2 separate regions of the Homo sapiens genome follow, and region 1 is linked to region 2. A link means that fine-mapping ties the variant in region 2 to the expression of a gene that starts in the linked region. Tissue or cell type: left ventricle. Region 2 holds a variant in brackets; the other region holds the start of a gene. All regions are shown on one strand. Distances are between the middles of the regions.

Region 1 (2,918 bases), 29 kb after region 2:
ATCCTGTGCCTCTCCCCTGATGAGGATTTGTGTTTCTGCCAGAAGCTTTGCTCCAGGTACTGATGAAACCAAAGTTTTGGAAATAGAAAGTGCTTCCTGAGAGATGACTAGCTTTGCAACTACTATTCAAAGAATAAGTAGAGTGTGTTTTAGAAGATGAGTATTTCCCACAAATGACAGAATGTTGGACTTAAAAGGTTCTGTGGCAGTTTGGGAGGTGACAGTTGATAGTTGTGAAAGTTGTTGTCTCTGAGATTCGTGAAACACGCCGCTTTTTAGAATGCCTCTGAAAGAACAAAGAAGTCACTGGCACTCGACTATAATATGCTAAAAAGTTTCTGGTTCCAACAGCACACAGCCAGCATCAGGTGTTTTCTTTTTTGATAAATGCAGGCGGGGTGTGATGTGGGAGAACATTTTGTGTTTTCCTGTGAGAAAAAGATAGTAGAAAAGAAAGTAAACACTTTGAAATGGCAAATCTCTTTCTTCCTCCCTCCCCTCTGAATCCAGTAATCAAAAAACTGTGAACTTTTTTTAAATTTTATTTTTTTTCACTGTCAGTATTCAATATAACTGTGAACTTTTTAAAGGAAGATGTTTTATTCTTTGAGAACCCCCTTACTAGTTAGATACCTCTAAGTGAGATATAGTTGTTTAATTTTTCCAAGGGCTAAGTCAGTAACATGCTGGACAGTTGAGTACATGCAGATAAGACAAAGAAATGAGACCTGGGCCTAGTCCAAGCCCATAAAGGATGGCAGTAAAGTCAAAATTCCCCTACAACTTCAGGCTAGGAACTACTACATTCAATGAGATGGAAAGGCTACTATTCCTAAATATTTAGTATTTATTTTATTTAGTCATTGTCCATCTTATCACTTACCCTCAAAATATTCTTTTGAGCAGTAAGTTAAGGCTGTTTTTAGCTCGCAGTTGATTGACTACCATTACTCAAGCCATTTGGGCTGTTGGAGCTCACCTTTAATTAAACAAGATTCTTATGAAAAACTTGAGAATGAAATCTGGTTGTAGGTATTCCTGTACTTTTGGATTAGTCTAAGGCTGAAATTTCGCACTCACTCCGAAAAGAACATCAGAATCATTTCGACCATGCTATGCTGCACAATAAGGAGTAGTTCAAACGACAACTTTTTTTGATCCCAGGTGTTTTATTATAGGGTTTTCTGATAGTCTTACCGGAAAGGAAGTTTTCATTCTGCTTGGGAATCTGGGGATGTCTCTAGCCATTTCTAAACTTCTACAGTGCTTCCCCCACGAACTAAAGATAACAGGCAAGCAGTTTCCATTGGAACTGTGTTAAATCGACATCTGAAATGTTCATTGCTTATAATTTGATCTTATTTAATTTCCCAAAAAATCATTAGTTACTAGGTATTGCTAAGTACCCACGTTCGGGAAACGCATCTTTTTTTTTTTTTTTTCACGGTTATTAAAACCGAGGGTGGGGGGCGGAGGACGCACGTGGGAACCCACCAGGCGCCTCAGCTTCTGCACTACAACTCCCAGAAGGCGCCGCGGCCAGGAAGCCGCTTCTGGACGGGCGTTCCCGCCCCTCGCTGGGCTTGGTAGTTGGGGCGCAGCCGCGGTGGCTGGGCGCGGAGTGTGCGTGGCCTGAGCCGTGCGGGTGACTGCTTCAGGGCTTCTCCGCGACTGGACCGGGCGCCGCTCGAAAGCACGCCCTCCATTCGCACTGCTTGTTGGGCTCATCATGAAGCGCTTGGGCTCCGTGCAGCGGAAAATGCCGTGTGTGTTTGTGACGGAGGTGAAAGAGGAGCCTTCCTCCAAAAGGGAGCATCAGGTACGGAGGAGCGCCGGGCAGGCTTGGCGGCCCGCGTGGGCTCCTCCCCGCGGCGCTGGCTCAGTGCGAACCCGGCGAGGGCGGCTGGGCGCTTTAGAACTGCCCTGCAGGCCAGGAACCTCTGTAGGTTTCCCTGGGGAGGTCTGGGGTGGGAGTTCCGTACGCCCTGAGCTCCAGGTTCTTGTACTTTTCTTAGTTGTGAGGGAGGGAATTTGCGAAAGAATTTTCCTTATCAGGAGATTCAAACTTGTCCTCGCAAGGAAATGGATAACTCACATCCACAGCATGTCCCTTCCTTTTCAGGTCAGCACCTTTTGGGGAAACCCCCTAATCAGGTAATTGCCACAGTCCAAGCTTTACTACTTTTCAAGAGTGCAGTAAGAAAGGGTGGATATTAGAAGACTTGCTTTACCTGTTCTGTCCGAACCAGTGGCGGTGTTGACAGTAGCCTAATTAGGTCACTGAAGTTCACACCTCATATTACCAGTAATTACTTAATTTATTCTAACTTTGGTGTTCTCAAGGTTTTCTGTTGCAGCAACGTGTTTTCCATAGTGTGCCCTCGGTAAATGCTAGTGAGTAACCTATATTTGGGTAATTTTTTCATATTGTACTATAAAACGTTGTAGTCTTTGATCAGTAGAATCCCCAGTGATTAGTTGGGTGCTTCCCAACTTTGCTGATTTCAAACAAAACCAACATGTCCATTGGAAATCCACCTCACTTGAGTTTCATCATTGGCACTGGCTTTCTCGTCTTCTGGACTAAAACTTGTTTAAGGCAAAGATTGCCCTGTTATCTTTAGTCCCAGCTTCTAGGACCTGGCACGTGGTAGGCACTGGATAAATATTTGTTGAATTAAAGAATGAACCCTGGAATCATTTCATGCCAGTTTTCCATTCACCTTGATGCTTTTTACCTTATAGCATCTGATCTTTTCCTGCTTTCTAGTGCTGTCACAGCTGTTACAGTTAATATTTCATGTCCTGCTCATTGCACCACCTAACTGGTCTTACTTGCCACTCAGACTGATCATCACCATGTTCTTTCCTCGTCAGAATACCACAGTTATTACTCAATGTTTGTAGCAGTAATTGGC
Region 2 (2,918 bases):
TATCAGGTACTATGCTTATAACCTGGGTGACGAAATAATATGTACATCAAACCCCAGGACATGCAATTTATCTTTAGAACCAACTTGCACAAACAAACCTGTACCCCTGAAGTCAAAATAAAAGTTAAAAAAAAAATCAATGCATAGTTGAACATCACAATCCTCTCATAAGCATTCTGTTGCCTCCTTTATTTCTGTATGTGGATTATAATTTTCTGTTTCTTTGCATGTCTTATAATTTTTATTGAAAGCTCAACATGTGTGATAATACATTGTAGCAACTCTGAATATTGACTTCTCATCCTAAACCTGAAGCTTGTTGTTTGCTTTTTAATTTTTGAGTGACTTTGTTGGAATATTTTAGTAAAATTTATTTTCTCCCACAATATGCAGCCTCTGTTGTCATTCCTCAGAGGATGTAGCCTTGGCATGTCCACAGTTAACAGGGATAACACGGACTTTAGCAGGGCTCATTTTGCTCCATTCCCTGGTTTCTCTGTTAAGCTGTCCACCTCTGTTGGTATCACACTGAGATGTTAGCTTCCATTCATTGCTGGTGTAATGCCCCATTGTTTTCATCAATGCACTAGGGCATAAATTGCTCCACAGTTTAACCCAAGTAAATTGACTCCTTTGCAGAGCTAAGCTTTGAGCCCAATCTTTCAAGTTTGTTCCAATCCCAAAAGAACTCTTTTTATTTTATGTTATTTATTTTATTTATTTATTTATTTTTTGGAGACGGAGTCTCGCTCTGTCGCCCAGGCTGGAGTGCAGTGGCGCTATCTTGGCTCACTGCAAGCTCCGCCTCCCCGGTTCAAGCGAGAATCCATGTTTTTAAACACCAGGCGAAATTGCCTGCCCAGTAGTTACCTGCAAGGTGTTCCAGTATCCCCTTCTGGGATAACTAGAAATGGAAGGCCAGGAGCTGTTAATAGATCAGAAGTAGTAGACTAAAGATTGACAAAGGACTATGTTTTTTTGTTTTTTTGGTTTTTTTTTTTTTTTTTTTTTTGAGACGGAGTCTTGCTCAGTCGCCCAGGCTGGAGTGCAGTGGCGCAATCTCGGCTCACTGCAAGCTCCGCCTCCCGGGTTCACGCCATTCTCCTGCCTCAGCCTCCCTAGTAGTTGGGACTACAGGCGCCCGCCACCACGCCCCGCTAATTTTTTGTATTTTTAGTAGAGACAGGGTTTCACCGTGTTAGCTGGGATGGTCTCGATCTCCTGACCTCGTGATCCGCCCACATCGGCCTCCCAAAGTGCTGGGATTACAGGCGTGAGCCACCGCGCCTGGCCCAAAAGAACTCTTTTTAACTGTGTCTTTACCGGGTTGTCTTTGGTAAACTTCTAGCTGGTTTACAGTTTAGTTTGCTGCTCTCATGGAGCTACTAGCCTCCTCTTAATTGCTTATCCCCAATCACCATTGTTTTCAGAGCGTCCCTAATCTTAAACTTCCCCACACTATGTTCTATTCCAAATAAATTCAGTTCTCTTTCCGAGAGCTTCAGAGTTTTCTACTCTCTGCCTGCACAAAATCTCAGTGCTAATGCTAAGAGCAAGGACAGTCACTTAATTCTTTTGGAGTGACGCCCTGTTTTAAAATT[G/A]GGGCACAAAGCAGGGGTGGTAATTTCTGGTGTTTACAACTTGTGCCTCCTGGCATGGGACCTCTATCCATGCTCCAACTGAGGCAAAGGTAATTGAGGTCCTGTTATTCCTAGCCTGCTGCACGTGGGATAGAACTTTTGCTTTATGCTTGGGGCTGGATGAAAACAAGATTCAGGCCTGAAAAATAGAGCTCTAGCAACATGGAGTTGGGAATTGGAGAGGATGAGAAATGTTAGCAGCTTTCTCCCCCCAGAAAGGTACTATAGTTCTTGACTGGAAGCTGGACGTAGAAAGAGCTCTGTGTTCTTGGCTGTATCCATTCAGAGTAGAGCTTCTGTCACACTAAACAGAGAGGTGGTGAAAGGAGTGGGTGGTGGTTCCAATACAACTGACTTGCCATTTTTACTGGCTTTAGTATATTTTATTGAATTAATACGATTTCATTTGCTGTATGCCCTTAGGACAATTTCTTAACACTTGGAAACATTTTTAACATATAATTTTCATCAACCATTGAAATCAATTGTTATTTCACTAGGGAACAGGTTCATGGAATTCTTCGCAACATCATTCTGAAAGTAATCTAGTCATCACAATTTTTTAAATGCAAGTAGAATTATTTACAAGTTTGCCAAATTGTTCACAATATCTTAGAAAAAAACCCATAGATACAATTTTCAAATAAAATCTTCCAATTGAGATAGTTAAGATCTCTTTTATAATATTGTGAAATCTTCTAATTGAAGTGAGTCCTCATCTTATTTAAGTTTATAAAATGTTTACTATATTGTAACTGACTTAGCAAATATTAGAACAACCTGCTCGTTCTGAATATTAGTTTTTAGCAAGTGTCTTAGTCCATTTGTGCTGCTGTAACAAAATATCTGGGTAATTTATAAACAACAGAAATTTATTTATCACAGTACTGGAGGTTGAGAAGTCTAAGGTCAAGGCACTGGCAGGCTTGGTCTCTATTGAGGACTCCCTGCTTCCAAGATGGTGCCTCGTTACTGTGCCCTCTGGAGGGGATAAATGCTGTGTCCTCACACAGAAGAAGGCAGAAGGGCAAAAGGGCAAAAAGGGCCAAGCCCTGTGTGAAGCCTCTTTTATGAAGGCCTTAATCCTATTCATATTCAACATGGATTTTGGAGAAATACAAACAAGCCATGGCAGCAATATATACCTTTTTTTGTTTTATAAACAGATAAGAATAATTTTGATCATTAATTCACCTAATGAAGAGGTAATTTTCTTATATAATTGTACTTTGATATGCAATAATTATCAATATTTGTAATGTAATTGTTGTTTTAATA

The links. PIP is the estimated chance that this variant, and not a neighbour inherited with it, causes the effect.
Region 1: it holds the start of RLIG1, and the variant in region 2 is the best candidate, but not a certain one, in a credible set for the expression of RLIG1 in left ventricle (GTEx, PIP 0.65).

What each region holds. Positions count from the first base shown.
Region 1 is chr12:88,033,920-88,036,837 of GRCh38, forward strand. It overlaps RLIG1 (RNA 5'-phosphate and 3'-OH ligase 1), which reads left to right and starts at 1,617. Exons shown (of 7, transcript NM_001009894.3): 1 at 1,617-1,819. The coding sequence starts at 1,730. It overlaps LOC107984542 (a long non-coding RNA gene), which reads right to left and starts at 1,577. Exons shown (of 3, transcript XR_007063395.1): 1 at 1,495-1,577; 2 at 1-428.
Region 2 is chr12:88,004,923-88,007,840 of GRCh38, forward strand. The region is part of intron 3 of C12orf50 (chromosome 12 open reading frame 50); the gene reads right to left. Among named protein-coding and RNA genes, the nearest start is that of C12orf50, 23 kb to the right of the region's middle. The variant G/A (reference allele first, on the strand shown) is at 1,602.